2 linked regions of the Homo sapiens genome follow. The protein of the gene in region 1 interacts with the protein of each later gene in a biochemical or structural test. Each region holds a gene or a part of one and is shown on either strand. Other genes may lie near its edges.

The links.
Region 2: the proteins of LIF (region 1) and SORT1 interact in a biophysical measurement, tested with the Homo sapiens proteins (one study listed by IntAct).

What each region holds. Positions count from the first base shown.
Region 1 is NC_000022.11:30,240,578-30,251,423, forward strand, and holds the start of LIF (leukemia inhibitory factor isoform 1 precursor), read right to left. Parts: upstream 6,183-10,846; 5' UTR 6,119-6,182; coding exon 6,100-6,118; exon of another isoform or gene 5,928-6,099; coding exon of another isoform or gene 5,591-5,927; intron 4,357-5,590; coding exon 4,178-4,356; intron 3,485-4,177; coding exon 3,074-3,484; 3' UTR 1-3,073. UniProt on the Homo sapiens protein: LIF has the capacity to induce terminal differentiation in leukemic cells.
Region 2 is NC_000001.11:109,386,934-109,397,115, forward strand, and holds part of SORT1 (sortilin isoform 1 preproprotein), read right to left. Parts: intron 6,203-10,182; exon of another isoform or gene 6,094-6,202; intron 1-6,093.

The sequences.
Region 1 (10,846 bases):
CCCCACAGGGTACATTCATCAAAGAGGAATTTGTCACCCAAGGCCATGTGCTTTTCAGTGGAAAGGAAGGAGGGAAACCTCTAAGGCCGCACGGTGGGCCCACGGAGCTAGCACGTGGGCGGGACTGAAGGCTGGATGCCGGGATTGAGGTGGGGAACTAGAGATGACTCTAAGGCAGGAACATCTGTACCATCTGCAGGGAAATGCTACCTCCCCGGGTGCCAGAGCTCCAACCCCACACACTATGTCTACTCTGGAGAGCCGGCAAGGCAGAGCTGGACTGGCTGGGTCAGGGTGGAAGTGCCCCAAGTCAGGGACAAGGAGGACGATGGGGACGATGGGGAGGAGAGACAAGTAAACTAGCAGTGCTTTTTAAAAAAATGTTTAAATAATAAATAAGGGCCCGGAGACATCTCTCTTGGTAAACTCTCTCTTCCTCCGGCCAGGCCCAGGTGTGGTCCACACCAGCAGATAAAAAGGGAAGAGAAACCCAGCTCCCGGCCTGGCAGAGCTGTTTCACGCAAAGGCTCTGTGATTCAGTGATGCTGTGCAGGGTGGACGCCAAGCTGCCGGACGGGATCTGGAGGGAGCACTGAGGATGGGTCCCATGGGGCCAAGTCCAGGCTGGGTGGGAGAGCGACTCAGAGCCAGGGCCGCAAGGTGGGCCTGGCACAGAGCTCCCAAGTCCACAGGGAGATGAGGTGATGGGCGAGTCAGCCGGGCCCCCCGGGTGGAATCAGCAACTCTGGTTTCCAGACAAGTTTGTCTTTCTCGAAGCCCATCCTGGGGGAATGCAGCCAGCCCCAAGCTAAGCCGGATGAAGCAGGAAGGAGAAGGCAGTCCCTGCATCCTGGACAAGGGTGAGTGTGGCCCACATCTCAACAGCCACATCCTCGTCTTGCTGTTGGGATGGACAGATGGACAACTCCGGGCCGCACCCTCCACCCCAACCCCAGGCCTCAGGACCTGCCTGCACACTGCCCACGCGCCATCCAGGTAAAGTGCTTAGAGAGCGACAGGGAAAGGTGCAAAGTGAGTGAAAAGTACCATAATTAGTACCATCATCTTGTCGGAGGAACTTGGAGGCCGGCAGCCCGCTCAGGGTTTGAGAAGAAGCCAGAACACTGCTCTGAGCAGCTGCCCCAACTCTGCTGCCTCCTTCCCTCCCCTGCTCTCAGACTGGAGGGCGTTTCTCCACTCGCCTGGCCCCAGCACAAAGGAAGAGATCGGGTTCCCTGCCTGGGAGCCCAGACATGGGTGGGAGTGGGATGGGGGTGGAGCAGGAGGGCCCACAGCTTCCTGGTCTGAGTCCCAGGCATCTGCAGCCTCCCTCTCCTCCTCTTGGGAGCAATGGGCAGCTGATCCCCCCAGTCTACCCCACCTTCCTGGGGTCTGGCCCAGCCAGGCCCCCCGCACCGTCTATGGGTGTCCGGGCCACAGGAGGAGCTTCCCTGCTGTGTCGGAGCATGCTGGGTGCAGGGGCAGGGTTGTTCCAGGGCGCTATTTCAGAGGCAGCATGGGGACACAGAAACAAGGACAGGGTGGGCCACAAGGACTGTCTTGCCCACTGCTCCAGGGGGCACAATATCTGCCAGGAACAGTGCGCCTCACAACACAATGCTGGGGCGCCCAAGAACAGTGTGAACCAGCCCCCTGGAATCAAGACAGAAAGGCACCCGGCCTCTCCACAAATTGGCCCAGCCCCTGCAGCCTGGACCCTGACACCCTAAAGCAAGTCACAGTAGGGGATGGGGGGGGGTGGAGCAAGGCCCCCCACTCCCACTCAGGCCTCCCCATTCTCTCAGATCCGACCCTTCTCTGAGCTTCACCCGTAAGGCTTATTCCACTTGTAACATTGTCGACTTCCAGACCAGGCCCTGCTAAGCCCTGGCCCTGGCGCTTGTGTCGGGAGCCATCATCATATTTTGTTGAGTAGGGACCAGGGAAAGGGGAATTAACTTGGCCACTGAAAGCACCAATAAGTTAATATAAATAGGATATCATAATAAATAGAAATCATGCCAGGTCAGACGCACAGCACGCTTGGAGCTCAGGGTTCCCTGAGACCCTGACCCTAAGTTCTGCTGTTCCCTTGCCCTGGGGACCAGAGACGGCCTCCAGTCCCCCTCAAGTACCTCTGTGTGACCTCACAAGGCCTCCCAGGGCCTCAGATGTGAGCTGCTACTCTGAGCTACCCCAGCCCCTTCTTACAGACCTTTACCCAGAGGAAGAGCCTGGGTCCCTCAGAACCTCTGCACCTGACTTAGCAACCTGCCCCTGCCCTACCCACCTCCACAAACCCCTGCTGCAGGTCCAGCCATCAGACCCTGGCCATCCCAGGCTGCAGGGAAGATCACGGGGAAGAGAACGAAGAACCTACCAAAGCTTTCCAGGCCTCTCCTCCTCCCAGTGTCTTCCTTCCCAGGCCTGAAGGTGGCTTCTCTGCCTCCCCAAGAGCCTGAATGCCAAGTGACCTCCTTCTGGAAACTTCTGCCAGATTGTTCCTATGCCCAAGTTCTCTGATCATCCTCAAAAGAAGACAGCCTTCCATCCCAGAGGCCCCTCTCTATCTTCCACTCATCAAACTTCTAGGGGACAAGGAGTCCTTTGGGATCCTAGCCCCTCTGGCCCACCTAAGTCCCAACCTAAGGGGCAGCAAAGGCACAGATGGTGATAATTTGCTGGGGGCTGGTCCACTCCCCTGGGCCCTGCTGTCTCACCCTGTGGTCAGGGCTCTTGTAGATGACTTGTGTAGTTTGTTCACTGCACAAAGTGAGCAAGGGGCCAAAGGGACAAGTAGAGGCAGAAGTCCAGCCCACGCTCCCCAGTCCACAATCTCCCAGAGGAAGGGGCACCTTCTTCTAGCTCCCTCCCTATGGAAGTTTCCACTCTGCTCAGCTTCATCACAGCCCAGCCCAGAGTGGAGTGGACTGGCCAGGCACCCTCGGGGTCTGCCAGCAGCCCCCATTTGGGTTTAGCGATGCCCTGGGCCCCAGCCACCCTTGGACAGGCCCCCACATCTGGACCCAACTCCTGAGATCCCTCGGTTCACAGCACACTTCAAGACCTCCTGCTAGAAGGCCTGGGCCAACACGGCGATGATCTGCTTATACTTCCCCAGGAGTTGACAGCCCAGCTTCTTCTTCTGGAAGACATCCTTACCCGAGGTGTCAGGGCCGTAGGTCACGTCCACATGGCCCACGTGGTACTTGCTGCACAGGCGGCACAGCACGTTGCTAAGGAGGCCTCGCAGGATGTCGGCGGTGGCGTTGAGCTTGCTGTGGAGGCTGAGGGCACTGGGGTTGAGGATCTTCTGGTCCCGGGTGATGTTGCCCAGGGAGGTGCCAAGGTACACGACTATGCGGTACAGCTCCACCAGCTTGGCCTTCTCCGTGCCGTTGGCGTGGAAGGGCGGGAAGTCCGTCACGTTGGGGCCACATAGCTTGTCCAGGTTGTTGGGGAACGGCTCCCCCTGGGCTGTGTACTGAGGGGCAGAAGGGAGGTGACGTGGGAGTCAGGGGTCAGTGTCCCAGCCCTGCCGCCAACCCTTTGGGCAAGCTCTTGCGTCTGTTTCCCCATCTAGCGCATGAGGACCCAACTCCTTGCCCTGTAAGCATCTGGAATTGTCATGAGAGCCAAAACTAATTGTAATGTGAGTGCCCTTGCTAAAGATCAAAGACTGAGCCATGCACGCAGTCATCATTATCATCATCATCATCATCACCACCCTAAGGGGACAGAAGGGAAAACTCGGTGTCTAGCCCTAGCTGGGGCACCACACACAAGTACTTCCATCCCTGCACTCACAATGTTCCGGGACGCCCCTCCATGCCCAGCACCCACAGCCCACTGCCTCTCAACCGCATCTCCCTGGTGCCTCACGCCCATTTCCCCTCCATCCCTCGCTCCCTGCAGCAGGACAATCACAAGATAAGAAGTGCCAGGTCCCCACCTTTGCACTCAGTTCTCCCCTTGCTAACTGGGCACCCTGGGGAAGCTTCCCTGGGGAAGCTTGGGCAGGAAGTGGCGGGAGTCTGGGGGTGGTTTAATCAAGCCCTCTCCCCATTCTCTCCTTCCAGCCCCAAAAGGTCCCCTCAACCCAGATCAGGACAGCCCCTAATGATATTTACAAGCCCCCTCCCTGCCATCTCCTGTCAGTATCCCAGGGGTAACTTACATAGAGAATAAAGAGGGCATTGGCACTGCCATTGAGCTGTGCCAGTTGGCTCCTGATCTGGTTCATGAGGTTGTTGTGACATGGGTGGCGTATGGCACAGGTGGCGTTGACAGGGGTGATGGGGAGGGGGCTCCCCGCCCCATGTTTCCAGTGCAGAACCAACAGCAGGGGCACAACTCCTGGGGACAGTCAGGAAGAAGCCATGAGTAGAAAGGCAGGAAAGGGTGGCCTGGGGTCATGGCACACCGGATGGGGGTCCAACAATGGCCGCATGGGAGAGGACTCCTGGTTCCCCCTCACCACCTGCAGCTGTCTTCCTGGGGCCTAGTCTTCACTCTGTCACTGCGTGTGTTTCTCTGTCTCCCTTTCTCTACCTTAGTTCTCCCTGCTCTCTTCTGGGATGACGTAAAGATGAGGGCAAGACACAAGCCATTTCCACCCAAAGGGTGCAGGGTCCAGGAGAGACTCCCAGCCATCCCACCCTTTCCCTCAGGAAGGCAAAGGTCCTAAGGCCCCCTGGCCCTCTGGCTGGAAGGCACCAGGCCCCAGGCCCAGCAGGCACCAGGAGAAAGGAGACCCCTCTCTTCCCACCTCCCGTGGTGGCCCAGGTTCCTCAGCAGCGCTTCCCACTCACTGGCCCATTGCAGCCCAAATCTCCGAAGCCAGGCACCCATGGGGGCCACGGGGCATGGGGGAGTGGGGAGGAGTCCTCGGTTGACCCTCATCTCCCTCCCAAACCTGCCACTTGATTCTGGCTCCCTGGGCCAATTGCCCCCAATTCTGCCCCCGCCCCCATCATCCTCTATCTCTTCCTTCCCTAGTGTCCCCTATCTCACTCAAGCTCACCCCATTTCTGCCTGGCTGTCCCCACTCTCCATCCCCAAATCATCATTCAAAACTCTCTGTTCCCCCAGCTCCGGACAGCCCCTGACTCCATGCCTTCTCCCGACTCATCCGCTGTCCCTTGTCCCAGGGGTTCCCCTCCCTCCTAACACACACACACCGGCTCAGGGAGGGAGAGGAAATGGTGCACCAGGAGAGAGAAAAGGCAAAAGGTCATAGGCAGTCGGGTGGGCGGGGAGGAAGGAAAGTGAAAGGTGACAGGAGAGCTGGGAGCTGTCCCGACATGTCCTGGTTTGCCCCTCCCCCAGGGGGGCCTGTTCTCCCGACTCCCCCCAGGCCCCCTTAGACGCTTTTCCAGGGCTCTGCAGAAGGGCACCTGAAGATGGTGGGGGCCGGGGTCAGCGGGCGAGTGAGGCTGGAGACCTCCCCCGGATCCCCCATGCTGGAACAGCGGGGACAGGGGCCTCCTCAAGTTCACTTCTCCTGGGTCCCCTGTTCGTCCCAGCATCCCAAGGCAGTGCTGAGGCCCCGGGGTGGCTGCGGGAGGGGGGCCACACCCCTATATCTCACCTAGCGCAGACCACACGCTTCCAGACACCAGCAGATGGAGGCGGCACCTGCTCCCGTCCCAGGCCGGAGTTTGCAAGCTGCTCGCCGCCCGCGCCCCTCCCTGGGAGCAGCCCGGGACCGCGGTTGGAAAGGAGAAAGCGGAAAGAAAGAAAGAAAAGAAAAAGAGAGAGGGAGAGTGAATCTGGGAGAAAGCGCAGAGGGAAGAGCAGCCAGCGAGTGTCCGGAGCGAGGAGGAGGAGGAGGAGAAGGAGAGGGGGAAGAAGAGGAGGAGGAGGAAGGCTCGGCGCCCCCTCCCTCGCCGCCAACCTGCCGCGGGGCGTGCGGTGCTTGGGACCATGTGCCCGCGCTCGCTCCGGGCCGCCACCCAGCGCCTCCGGTGGCTGCGCGGGCGCCCCAAGTGTTCGTGTGTCTGCGGCGGGTGGGCGTCCGGCTCGCGCTGCCAAGCGCCCCAAGTTGCCGCCGCGCCCCGCAGCGGGGACGCGAAGCCGGCGCGGGGCGGGTGTATTTACCTGCCGCCAAGACCTTCATTATGGGCTGCACTTCAGAGGGCCTTGGAGGAAACCTCAGATGCCGGCAGTTTTCAGAGGTTCATGCTCAAATGGGGAATTTGCCTGATTTATATACTGGAGCCTGTGTTGTAAGACAGAAACAGCTATATTTAGCCGGGATCCCCAGTCCAGGAAGTTGTTTGAGGTGCATCATAGGAAATTATGAATGGAAGAAAGTGAGAGTGAAGGGGGGGGACGAGTGAGGGGGGAGGGTGGGGAGAACAGACTTTTTCCCTCTTCTAAGAATTTGATTGATAAAATTATAATGAAGCCTTCGACAAAACGCCCTGTGGTTTTCCTGCCTGGCTTGTCCCGGGAGTTGTCTGAAGATGGGCATCGCCAGGAGGGGGCCCCTGGCCGAGTCAGCAGGGGTCCCAGCAGTGGGCGCCCCAGACGGCCCTGACTCACCTGGGTTTGGGGAGGTAGCGAGTCTGGACTAGCAGATGGAGACTGGCCCCTGTGCCCCCTGGTTGGGGGGCTTTAGGGGGGCAGTGGGAGGAGGAGGGCTAGGGCTTGGCTGAGAAGGAGGCTCCAGGAGGAGGGGCCGGGGCCGGCGTGGACTTTAGACGGTCATAAAGTGGAACTGAACATGGGCGCTGGAAGCCACCCCAGAGGTAGCCTCCTCCAATCTGCACATTGCCACTGGGCCCCAAGGGGCTCCGAGGGGAACACGTTGCCCAGGGCCCCAGAGGGTCAGGCCTCCAGACACCACCAGTGCACTCGCCCTGCTGACCACTGTACCTGTGAGGCTGGGGAAGGGGCTAGGAAGACATGGGGGTAGGGGTGACTGACTCAGTTCTGTCGGGACACTCTGGGAAGGTGCTTCTGGGAAGGCGGTCCAGCATTTCCATTCTGAAGCAGGACTGAGAGAGGCTTGGCGAAATCGTACCCCAGTTTCCTCCTCCGGGTGCTGATTGATGGTTGGGGAAACTGAGAAGTGGCTGGTCCCTTCCAGACCTGCCTTGGAAGCCCCTTTGAGCCCAGCCTCAGAGAATGATGGAGGTCCCCAAAAAGTGCTTCTAGAGGCTCTAAGGCAGTGTCACATGTTCTGGCGTCTTCTGAGGCCAGGCGATTTGTGAATGAGGAAGGGCAGAAAGGAGCAGTGGGGAGCCGGGCAAAATGAGCACAGGGACACCTCCAAGAAATGCAACAGAAAAGTGAAAATAAATACACCCTATGAGATGCGGGAATGCCGGCCAGACAGCATGGCCACGCGTCTGGGGCCATGCCGTCCCTAAAGCTGCCAGGGGACCCCCAGTACCAGGAGATGATTTAGTCCCCTGTGGCCCCTTCCCAGCCCTTCCGCCTGACCCTGACCTGAGATCAAGGTGTGTGAGTTGGTTTTCCAAGGCCAGGGAGCTCTTGCAGCCTCGCCCGGGCCCCCACCGCCCCCTCGCCCATCCTCCATGCCCCCAGTTCCTGCCTCTTGCCACATCCCAGACCTGCCCAGCCACGGGTTCCTCCTTCATCGTGCCAGGACGAGCCCTGGTGCCTGCTGCCGTTCCCCACCACACACACACCCTGCTTTATCTACGCTCTTGCCCCCCATTCTCTCCCAGCAGGGCCTCGGATGTGAGGTGATAAAACTGCCCATCCCAGCTGGCACTTCCCGAACTGGCTCTCCTTCCTCCTTCCTGCCTCTCACCCCACACCTTGTCTCTTCTTTGAGGGACCATGGAGGGCCCCACTTGGCACTTACTGCTCCTATACACTTGCTCTGGGGTCAGCGTACACTACTAGGAGACTCACCTGCCCTGGCCTGGCTCAGGTAACCCCACATCCCAGGACACCCCAGCTCAACCCTTCTTCTTACACCTCCCCCAGCATCTCCTGCACAAGGACCTGACCACTCAGAGCACGTGAGCTCTGGACCAGTCCCCAGTCCCATCCCACATCACCCAGACCCCTGCCACCTGACTCAGCCTGGCTCTCCTGACATGGACCCCAAATCCATGTGACCAGGGGCTCACTGTGGCCTCCACCCATCAAACCCCCGTCGCCCGGCCTGAGTCTCTCATTAGGCTCAAGAGTTCTGCAGCTGCCCCTACATCTACCATTCTGCCCAGTCTCCCCTGCATCCTTCCAAGCGGACCCCCAGGCCCTTGCATGCCTTCTGGCAAGCCAGACCCCACATCAGCCCTATAATCCACCCCCAATCGCTGTTTAATCTCAGCCCCACCCCACAGGAAACAGGAAGTGAGGACAGGGTCTAGAAGACACTGACACTAAGGCCCCTTAACCCCAGCCCTGACTGGCCCCTCCAGTGCCTCAGTTTCCCCTCCTCTCACGGTACCTGACTTGGTTTGTGCTCCCCAAGTGCTCTGGGCCCCTCGGCGCCCCAGGCCCAGCCTCCCCCTCCTGTCCATGTCCAGGCACCACCTGCTCTGGGCCTCTGGAGGGAAGGCTGGGCAGGGTCTCGGAGCCGCAAGTCCGTGTGCCGCCTGCAACGTGGCTGCGGCCCCCAGGAATCAGCCGCCCAGGCTACGCTCCAGGCCCACTTTGGTCTCTGGGAGTTTGTTTTCTTCCCTCCCTCTCTATGCTGTGTGTGTGTGTTCCCCGCCCCCGGCCGGCTCCCTCATGGAAGGCACCCTCCCTTCTTGGCTGCCGGCTCCCAGGGTCACGACCCCAGGCCCCACCCTGGAGTGGCAGCCCCGGCTTGGCCCCTTCCAGCTGTGACTTCATCCACAGCCTGTCCTGCTCCTGCAGATGGGGCCTGCTGGGGATTTGACCGGTCTCAGGGTGAGCGGGACAGTCCCGGCCACATGGGACCCCCTGACATTGAGCAGAGGTTACTAGGCCAGAACCCAGGAGTGCTGTCTCCAGGTGGCTGTGCCATCCAACCCATCACTGCTCTCCAGGAAGGGAGTGCACCCTCTAGCACGTGCAGCTACCCAGCTGCTCGTCTTCTGCTGATTGTTACCCCCCATCCACAAGTCTCTCCTGGGATATCACAGCTGCTTATTTTCCAGATGGGGAAATTGAGGCTCAGAGAGGTGAAGATAACTATGTGGGGCTCACATAAAGAGTTAATAACAGAGCCAGGTCTGGAACCGGGGCTTCTGTCTTGCAGGCCACAACAATCCCTGCAGCACCTCTTGCTCTGAGAGGGCGAAGGGCATGGCAGGAGTGCTCGGGTCGCCTTCCTCCAGGAAGCCTCCCCTGCCTCCCATGGCCCCGACCAGCTCACATCGGCCATGTCCTGCCTGCTCGTGTTTCAAGTGGGGATGAGTCTTATTCCTCAACCTTTGAGAGTTTGAATGGGGTCTGAGACTCACTTGTGCTCTAGACAGCACCTGGCTCAGGGCTATACTCTGACATGAATAGAGGTTAAGTATTTTTTGAGAAAGCATTTTATAGTTTCCAAAAACTGTCAGTGCCAACTCTCTTGTGGAAAGGAGATGGAGAGGCCTGAAGGTTTGAAGAATGGACTCTGGCCTCATTCACAACCAGGTTGGAGGTTTGGCTCTGCCAGTTATGAGCTGAGTGACTTTGGGGAAGGGACTACCACCTCCTGGCCTCAGTTTCTTCAACTATAAAATGGGAATAATGGTACCGCCTTTGTGGGTCTGCTGTGAGGGCTCAGGGCTCAGCATGGTTCTGGGCACCCAGCAAGCCACCTGTCTGCATATCATCACCCATTGTGCTGACCTCCCTGTGAAGCAGGGGTTCATTTGACAGATGGGGAAACTTGGGTCCATGCCAGGGTGCTGAGCGGGGAAGGCTGGGCAGGAGCAAGACCTCTCAAGCCTCTGCTGATGGTAAATTGAGGCAAGATACCCACGTAGCCTCCAGCTTCAAGGGTGCCCCAGATAAATCAGACAGGTTGTGGGAGGGGGCTGGCAGGGCAGTGTGCTCACTCCCCCAGAGCCCCCTTCCTGGCCCCTCACCACCCCCACCCCAAGCCTGATCTGAGGACAGCAGCTGACCTGGCCTTACCGCCCCCAGAAGCTGATTCACCCCCAGGCCCCATGTGAGAAGGAAGGAGACAAACTCAGCTCTGAGGGGCTTGAATCACCAGCCGCCCCCTGCAAAGCCCCGGGGTTGGGGGGGGGATGCGGGGGTGGGGGCCAGCCCCCTGCCTGTCTGTCTCTTTCCTGGACCCTGGGGCTCTCAGGAGAGAGGGCAGCATGTCAGTGGCATGGGCAGGGGTGAGATGGGAGGTCCCTTCACAGTCAGGCATTCTGTGTGGGCAGCCAGCAGCAGTTACTCACCAGGTAAGCAGCTCTCCGGGCATTGGGGAATTCCCCAAGACCAGCGACCCAGAAACAGCGCTCCGGGCACCCCCGGCTGCCCAGGCTGGCCTCCCTCCTTCCTTCCCCATCCCCTCTGGCCCTGGTACCTGGAAAATGAGCAGAGCCCTCAGGTGGGCCTAGGAAGGAAGCGGGGGGCCAGAGGGTGGGTCCCAGGCTCAGGGCTGGTGAGGAGTGGCCAGAGGAGATGGTGAAGCTCAGGAATGCCGGGCACAGCCCAGCCAATTGGGCATCCTGGCCAAAAAGGCAAGAGCACCGCACTCTTCAATGCTTGAGGAGTGAGAGTGTGATGCCACCAGCGGACCGTGCCTCCACTGTTCTCACCCCAGTGGTGTGGGTTCAAATCCCTCCTGCCCCAACAACCAGCTATGTGGCCCGGGACAACGGGCTTCCTTTCTCATACCCTCGGTTTCCCCTCTGCAAATGAGGATGCTGTCATAACAGCCTCGTGGGGCCAT
Region 2 (10,182 bases), on another chromosome or scaffold:
TAACTCTTAACAAATTAAAGCTTAATGAAGGGGAAGAAAAATTGTTATTAAATTATAGTCTTTAAAAAATAATTTGGTCAGGTGCAGTGGCTCATGCCTGTAATCCCAGCACTTTGGGAGGCTGAGGCAGGCAGATCACCTGAGGTCAGGAGTTCAAGACCAGCCTGGCCAACATGGTGAAACCCCATCTCTACTAAAAATACAAAAATTAGCCAGGTGTGGTGGTGCACATCTGCAGTCCCAGCTACTTTGGAGGCTGAGGCAGGAGGATCACTTGAACCCAGGAGGCAGAGGTTGCAGTGAGCTGAAATCATGCCACTGTACTCCATCCAGCCAGGACAACAGTGAGACTCAGTCTCAAAAAATAAATAAATAAAAATAAATAACTTTAAGTTATTTCAACCTATTTACTAGCCAGGCACAGGGATATGTGCCTGTAGTCCTAGCTACTGCAGAGGCTGAGGCAGGAGGATCACTTGAGCCCAGGAATTCAAGGTTACAACAAACCATGATTACACCCCTGCACTCCAGTCTGGGTGACACAGTAAAGACCATGTCTCTTAAATTTTTAAATTTTGTTTAAAATTTAAAATTTTGTTTTAAAACAAAACAAAAACTATTTAACCATATATGCTTGAAGCTATTATAACCAGATGACCAGGTATCTGATTACTGTTTTCTGATTATTAATCTGATTATTTTCTTCTCTATCTCCCATAGCTTCAAGAAAGGCATTTTGGGCTGGGCGCGGTGGCTCACGCCTGCAATCCCAACACTTTGGGGCCGAGGTGGGTGGATCACGAGGTCAGGAGTTTAAGACCAGCCTGGCCAAGATGGTGAAACCCCATCTCTACTAAAAATACAAAAATTAGCCGGGTGTGGTGGCGGGCACCTGTAATCCCAGCTACTTGGGGGGCTGAGGCAGAGAACTGCTTGAGCCCCAGAGGCGGAGGTTGCAGTGAGCCGAGATAGTGCCACTGCACTCCAGCCTGGGCAACAGAGCGAGACCCTGTCTCAAAAAAAAAAGAAAAAGAAAGAAAGGCATTTTGAATAGATGATCTCTGCCTAAACCTATCTCCCACCCTCCTCTTTTTTCATCCTGAGTCCAGTGATACAAGTAGTACATTTTTTTTTCCTTTTAGATATGGGACCTCACTATGTTGCCCAGGCTGGCGTACAGTGGTTATTCACAGATGCGATCACAGTGTCCTATAGCTTTGAACTCCTGGGCTCAAGCTATCCTCCTGCCTCAGCCTTCCAAATAGCTGGAACTCTAGATGTGCACCACTACCTACCCCTAATAAATTTTTTTGTATTTTTGGAAGACAGTATCTCGCTCTGTTGCCCAGACTGGAATGCAGCGGCGCAATCATAGCTCACGACAGCCTCAAAACTCCTGGGCTCAAGTGATCCCCTCACCTCAGACTCTTGTGTGGCTAGGGCTACCGGCATATGCTACCATACCAGGCTAATTAAAAAAATTTTTTTATACAGATGGGGTCTCACTATGTTGCCCAGGCTGGTTTCAAACTCATGGGCTCAAGTGATTCTCTTGCCTCAGACTCCAAAAATCTTGGGATTATAGGTGTGAGTCACCCTGCTTAGCCAGGGCTAATATGTCTTAATCCAGATGCAGTTCTTGTGAGTACCTATAATAATTCTCTAGAAATATTAGAGATATGAAAAAAATTAAGCACATGTACAAATATTTAAGCATCTAACTGGTAATGTGTCAGAAGCTTTGTAATGAAAATCATTACAAGAAATCCTCAACAAAAGAATATACACTAAATCCTGTACTATCTTCACAATGACCCTAAGAGGTAGTATTAGTACTCCCATTTCATAGATGAAAAATCTAAGGTTCAGAGAGGTTAATTTGTCCATGGTCACCACTGAAGTTTGAATCCAGATCTAATACCTGAGATCCTGTTCCCCCAAACTACTGCCTCAAACCATCATCAATTATATTAACAAAAGTTTGACATAATCACAAAGGCTTAAAAAAAGAAGAAAACCACTACATACACGTCTTACATTTCTGCCAATCTTGACTCACTTTAATTCTTGCCACCCCCACCCAAGCCTGTCATCCAACTCTGCCAAGTGATAAACCAAACGCATTTATGCCTCATCCGTCTGCTTTAATACACATGCTCCTCAGGGTTTGGCTCAAGGGCTGTATCTATCAGGATCACCTGGCTGACAAGCAGGCCCTGTGGGGGCTGTGACACATCAGCAGGTTTATTAAGGAATTATACAAATCATACTCATACGGTACTTCAAGGTTTCAAAATATTTTCACATATATCTTCCCTTCAAAACTTCATGATAATCCTCCATTTTATGTGACGGGAAACTGAGGCCTAGAAAGGCTAGTTGAGCTCTGTTGAGGGTACTATGACCTTGAGAAAAAGAGTAGAATTCACAACTATATTACTTATAACTGGGATCTCATAACTTTGCCTTATCCCTAAAGCAAATGCATTGATTTCAACACTCCTATGAAACACTTCCAAATGCAGCACCATGTTGGGACATCTGTGTTCTACTCCCAGCTCTTGGCCAGTAAGCAAGTCAGCCAGCCGCATCAGCAAAAGGGCTCTGACCAGCTAATCGGCCCAATAATCCATGATTCAAACCATTAAGCACATTATCAGCAAGAGTTCAACCTTATCCTTGTTCACAAATGTTCAGAAAAATCTGTTCATAGGCATCACTGTCTTACAGCTCCTGGCTTCCTCATGCCTTGGCTCACATTCTTCTTCAACCAGGTCCAGAAGTTTAGGAGTGCTTTTTGGAAACGTTAGCACTTCAAGTATAAAGGATGGTCTGCCTCACCTTCTGTTCTGCTTTCCTCTGGGACCTTCACATCCAAGACCAAAGCAATGGCCGGCCTCTGAAAGGGGAACTCTTCTTGGCTCCCCATTTCTACCTCTGGTTCCTCCAGCTCTAGCCTCATGTCTAGCACTATCTGTTAAAACTCTCTCTTTCACAAGTAAGTCCTTTTGCCAAACTCACTACCCACGCCCCTCCTCTCTTTCCATCCCCCACAAAAGAGCTATCTTTTTTTTAACTTCCCTATATGTTTTCCTGGAAACCTTAGTCATACTCCCCATCAACTACCTCACCCTAAAATAAAGTTTCTGTTGACCATCCCTTGAACATATCTTGGATTTTCCTACTTCCTTCGTGCCGTTACAGATCTCCCTAAAAATCACCTCCACTTTGATTCTCTCTTCAGCCAGAGGGCTTTCCCAGAACACTGCACTGCAGTGGTCAAGCCTTCTTCCAAACTCCCAGTGAAACATCTCTGAACACCTAAATCCTTAAGATAGCCCCAGTGCTTTGCTTTGTTTATGCACAGGTCTGGACTCCACTCAGTACATGGCAGGCAGCTCAGTAAGTGTCTAAATGAATGACATCTATATAGTACTTTACCTTTAACAAAACACGTTGATAAAACTTCTCATTTGACCCTCCAAACAATCCTAAGAGCTGCTGCTCTAGTTTAAAAAACAACTGTAAAGACCACTGAAGTTAAGTGATTTTCCATAATCACACAGCTATGAAGCAGCAGAGCCAGGACCCAAATCTGGGTATTGAGACATCTCTTTGAGATTTTGTATACAACATATTTATGTTTTGAATCCTTTGTGACAAATAGCAAATACTAGATAAAAATGATTTGAACTAACTTGTCTGGGAATTATTGAAGTTAATACAAATTTTCCTTCCCAGTTCAATTTCTCCTGGTCCTTCAGAGCAATTGTACTGTGGAACCAGACTTGCAAACTGGCTTCAGTACAATATTAGAAAGTGTGTGTGTGTGTGTGTATGTGTGTGTGTGTGTGTGTGTGTGTGTGCGCGCGCGCGTTTTAGGACATACAGGAAGACTAAAATGCTTATCCAAAGCAAACATAAGACGGATAGTATTCATAAGCCAGAGAAGGAACATACATACGTTTTCTTCTGATAAAAATAAATCAAGCCAATTAATCACATATAAGTTTCTACATGTGAATATATTTATGGTAAGCTGACCATCTATTTTCAAACACACAGGCAGCCAGGATGAAGAAAAAAAGCCCCAGTTTTGGCAGAGTACTATAGGAAAGGGAAAAAGAAAAATGAATTTACTGCTATCTGTTGGGTTTGCTTTTGGACTATTCAAGCTAGTAGCTTTTATTAGCATTAGATTTTTCAGCCAACAAGGAACAAACGGTAAAATATTACCCCCAAAATAAAAGAGAAAAATGTCTTTCATAACTACATGAAAAAAAGTACTCCTGCTATCTTTAAGAACATGCATATTTCACTGAAGCAAGTTCTGGAGGTGGTAGTAAAACACCCCTAAATGTGAAATCCATGCTATGTTCAAGTTTGACTGGGAAGTCAAACAGCCACAGTTTGCTTCTAAATTTGGAATCAGCCAGGAAAACATTTGTGATCACAACCTCTGGCCTCTCCCATATGAATCATAGAATTTTTGAAAGAAATTTTAAAGCTAGTCCAAAACTTCTTGTGCTGTAGATGAGGAATCGAGGGCCAGAGACTAAAACACAAAACAGAAAATAAGTTACATTCACAGAAAACTTCCTCGGCAAAACACGACAGGTTCTGAGTGGAAGGATTTTGTTTTTACTGTGGTTTCCTGAGATTGAGATTGGGGATAGAGAAGGAAAAACAGCCTCCATCTTTCACCTAAAAATTTTCATAGGTATGAGGAATCTGTCATGAACATTCATTCAACCAAACTATCTCAAAGCAACATATTACTAACCCAACTTTGACTGCAGTCACCATTGAAACAAGAACAAAAAAGCTGCCTAGAACTGACTGAAATTGATCAGCTTGTTCTTCAAGCCCCATTAATCCTCAAATCCACCTGCATACAAATCACTGAGACCACATAGTGGGAAGAACAAGTTTTCACCAAGTTTTTAAAAATAGAAGTAAAAGATGCAATAAAAACACTGATGACAAAAGGAGAGAAAGGGAACTGAAACTTGTAGAAATCTACAAATGCAGTATCTAGTTCATAATATTGTCAGAGCCATTGCCACAGTTTTGTTGTTTCTAGAAAAGCTGTATTTTAAATTACATGTCAAATGTGATGGCTTTGTCTGCCTTAATATTAGCTCCTAATTATATAAAATATCTGAGCCTCATTTCTGCAGCCTCAAAACATAGTTCACTTTCTGTAAAAAAAATTGAGGGGTAGGATTAGGTAGGAAGGAGGGAGAAGAACAAACGTTACTCCCCCGTCCTGACCATTACAACTTGGTGCTAAGCACTGCCCAGCATGTGATGGTCACACAAGGGTAACAGGCCAACTGGGACAAAGTTGGGGAACGCAGACTCTGCAGTCACCCACTGAGAACCCAATGCCTGTTGACGAGAGTTGACTGGAAACTGGCAGAGTGCAGAAGAAACTGCTAATAGTATCTGTGACCCTGACATGAAAGATCTGATCAAAACAGCAGGATAGAAAGCCTATTATTGTTGTTAATAATCACAAAAAGAAAATAGCCATTAGAAATTGAACAGAACATAAGCCTTCTTCCAATTATTTCCACAAGCAGACATGAGACTCAGATTTCTAATTAAAAATCACTGTGCACAGAGCCAAACATTTGAGTCAGCAGAGAACTTACCTAATTGTTAACACTGCATTCCCTTGGAGCCATCTGTCATACCTGGCTAGCTTTCTACTCTCATCCCAACCAAACTTCAGATGAAGACTAACCTTTCCCCAGATAAATTACACTTCATCAAATCTGCTGATACTTCTTACTGAAATATCCAATGCATAAGTCATTTTAACATCCCTCTAGGGGCTAAAGGTCTGACTATACATTGCATGAGAGAAGACTCTTCATGAAGGTTTCGCTCACTCTGCTCAACCAGGACCAAGAAGGAGATCCTACAGAGTTCCTACTCCTTGATCCAAAGCTGAATGGAAGAAACAGAACTCAAGAGACTATTAAATAAGCTAGACGGCTGGGGGTGCTAGGGAAGGTAGGATGAAGAGAGGCCAAGTATTGGAAGAAATGAGGCAGTTAGGAAGTTCCGGGGCATTAAAGGACTGACCTTCAGACTTCCGGGTGTTACAAAGGTCTGGCGATTCACAACAACAGGCCGAGGTCTTCAGCGGCAGCTCCCTGAAGCCTCTGACAGGCACACTCAGTCCTGTCAGCTTGGACTCAACCCTGCCAGAGCCAGCAAACAAACACACGCATTCTTCCCAGAGCTGACACCCCATACAACACGGCCTCTCTACAGGGCCTGTTTATTTAAGGAACCAGATGCTTTAAAGTTGGAGTAGAAGTTGGGAAGTTATGTTTACAGAAGTAGTTAGTGACAGGAGCAGAGGGAGGACAGAAAATAAGCAAGAGTTCCTGGCTTTATTCATCATAAGTTTAAAAAGTTTTAAGGAAATTGTCAAATGGTCTGTACACAGGAATGAGAAGTAAGGAAATTATGTCAGCCACCACCACAACTCTGGCCAAGGCATTTCATCTGTTCCTTTAAGACAGTTTCATGCCTACCCTCAAAGGGGTGCTTACAGCAGAAATGTTTTGAAGCAATCCAACTTAGTAACCAACAATAAAGTCTTCTAGGCCTGCTCAATTTCACGCATGTACAAAGGTTATACATGTCATGAATACTCCAAGCAGCTGAAGGAAAGAATCAGTTAAAAATGTGGCATGAAAACAGTTTTGAGTTCCAGGCAAAAGGAAGATTATTGAGTCTAAGAAGAGAGCATTTATAAATGATAGCTAATTGCTGAGTGCTAATTATGTGCCAGACATTCTTCTAATGAGTTATTACATATGTATAGATTATACAACACAATGTGATATGTTGTAATACATACTATAACTCATTACAAATACAATATTACATATGCATATATTATGTAATACAAATATATATTTATACAATAATATACATATACGTATATATTATGTATATATAATTTAACACACACTCATTTAATTCTCACAACCACCCTACAAATTAAGTGCTCTTATCTTCACTTTACAGATTAGGAACTGAGACACAGAAAACTTAAGTAACTCACCCAGGATCACACAGTGACATGGCCAGGGTTCAAATGCAGGCAGTCCAGATAAGGCAGTGCTATACCACCTTACCATGGTAAGTCAAACCCTTAGAACAAAATTAGGGAGCATAATTTTTGGAAAGTTATAACTATTTATCTTTCTCCTTCGTTTTCTTGTCATCCCTTTTGTTTGTTTTTTTAGTAATAGCCAGTATTTTTTATTTCCACTTTCCCATGAGTCTATTATAGCTAACTTGTAATACTGTAACTAGAAAGGAAAATGTTTTCCTCTCCTGCCTCAACTCCTAAAATAAAGCACTTAATCATTAGGACTTCTATGTGAAAAAATATATGCTGTGTGTAATAAACCCAATGCACTTTAAATATATTTTAAATTAATAGATTGAAAAGAAATGATATGAGAAAAAAAACCTTAGAGAGAAAAAGGGAGGCTTGGGCAAAGAGAAAAACCTGCTGGATTTCATGGACAGAGAAGCCTGAGTGGTCATCAGGACACCGGTCTCCTTAAACCGTAATATAAACGCACTATTATGCTTTAGCTTTACCGTGCTTTCTTGAGAAGACAGGTTAAATGCTAATATATCCTCATAAGCCACAGACACAGGTCTAGTAGTTTGCTATAACCTTCTGAGGCTTTTCATTCTCCAGTCTGAATGATCTTTTCTTTGTATCTTGGCACCCCAGCATCTAGCACAGATCTAGGCATTTGGAGGGCATTCACATACATTGATGATGTGAATTAATGTGGCTTGAAATGAAACAGGACCAAGTTAAAAGAAATAAGAGAACCATGAACTTTTGCTTTTTCTTGGGACTCGAATCCTGTCATGTTATGTAGGAAAAATGATTCTACATGTACCTTCCTTCCCCAGTTGTACAAAGTACAATATCTCTGATAAAAAGTTGTTCTGTCATGCTGATGCTTTTATTTCACACTGTTTTATAAACGGTCCAAAAATACTAGATCTCTTCAATACAGTTCAGGATTTTTTATGACTTCTAAAACCAAATAAATAAACAGAAGAACAGGCTACTACATAACAATTCTTGGTTAAGAAGTACTACTTAACCATTTTTAAGGTAAATGATATTAAACAAAGGCTCCACTTTTTTTTTTTTTAACCAGATACAGAAAGGATGAGATCTCTGAAGAAGAGACCACGGATGACTAACAAACGCAAAAACTTTTTTTTTTTTTTTTTTTTTTTTTTTTTTGAGATAGAGTCTCACTCTGTCACCCAGGCTGGAGTACAACGGTGCGATCTCGGCTCGCTGCAACCTCTGCCTCCTGGGTTCAAGTGATCGTCATGCCTCAGCCTCCAGAATAACTGGAATTACAGGCGCATGCCACCGCGTCTGGCTAACTTTTGTATTTTTAGTAGAGACAGGGTTTCACCATGTTGGCCAGGCTAGTCTTGAACTTCTGACCTCAAGTGATCCACCTGCCTTGGCCTCCCACATTGATAAGATTACAGGCATGAGCCACCGTGCCCAGCCAAAATAGCTATTTTAAATAAGGTCACTGAAAAAAAGACTGGGAGAGAAAAACTAAAAAAAAATTATTGCAAACAGCTAAATGAAAGAAATAGAAGAAAATTTCTTTACATGTGGACTTCAAAGAATGAGTGGTTTTAGGTCTACTCTTCCACAGATTTGGCCTTAGAACCCCTGAGCCAGTTTTTTCAACCTCTTTCTTTGGAATCAATATATTACAAATGACACATCAATTCAAACTAACCAGGAAGACTCTGACTCAAGGAATAAATCCAGGCAGGGCATAGTGGCTCACGCCTCTAATCTCAGCACTGTGGCAGGCTAAGGTGGGTGGAGCACTTGAGCCCAGGAGTTCAAGACCAGCCTGGGGAACATGGCAAAACCCTGTTTCTTAAAAAAAGAAAGAAAGAAAGAAAAGAACAATTAGCTGGGTGCATGTACCAGTAGTCCCGGCTACTTGGGAGGCTGAGGTGAGAGGATCACTTGAGCCCAGGAGGTCAGGGCTGCAGTGAGCTGTGATCACACCACTGCATTCCAGCCTGGGCAACAGAGTGAGACCCTATCTCAAAAAAAAAATAGTAATTACACAAAAATTAGCTAGGCATAGTGGTGCACACCTGTAGTCCCAGCTACTCAGGAGGCTGAGGTAAGACTCTATCTCACAAAAAAAGAGAAAAAGAAAAACAGGAGTAAATCTAAATCCAGGAGTAGCAGCAGACCTAAAGTTAGGTCAACCAGCGAGAGAAGAATTTGAAATATGGAGCAAGAATGCTGTGACCAGCTAGCTCAAGGAAGGAAGTGGTCCAGTATAAATTAAGCATTAGTGTTGTAAAGCCTTTCTCAATCCCCCACTGTGAGAAGGAAGTCTATTCGATTTTTTTTTCTCATCAAGTAGGAAGACTTCCCAGTACTCATTCTACCCAACCTGTCTCACCCTCCAGCACTAGCTTGGCTACCTTTACACAGCTGCTGCTCGGGATACACTAAGCACAATTATTCCTGAATATTTGTGTCTTGTGTCCTCAGATCAGAGAATTCTATTACAGGTAACAAGTATGGTCCAGATAACCAGGCAGTCCAAAGGGAGACTGAGGCTTGGCTGACGCTGAAAAACGGTTACAGAAGGACAAGTGCTGGCACAGAGCCTTGGCCACCCATCTCTGCCCCCAAGTGCAATTCATTTTCTTTGAAAGAGGAAAACAGGCAAGGGAGAAAATATATAGAATTGAAAATACATTATGCAAATGTGGCTAGCAAGGATTAAATTGTTAATTTTAGAGAAATAGGAGAAAGATGCCCAAGTTGTGCTGAAGCAAGGAACCAGGACTTTCTTAATAATTAGTTTTGTCAGTCCAGTAGTGTGCAAAGGTTGAGCTGCTTGTCCCCAGGGACAGAAATCCCATAATTTTGAAAGTCTTTTGACCAAGAGCTGGCTCAAAGCAGAATATGTGCAATGCGTTTCTTAACTATTGAAAATCTTGTCACCACGGGATATAGACATGCTAGTCAGACTTCCGTACCATGACAGAAGGTCAAATCTGAAGCAGTAAAAGAGATCACATAAATATTGCCATCTCATTTCCAAGCTAGTCCCCTTA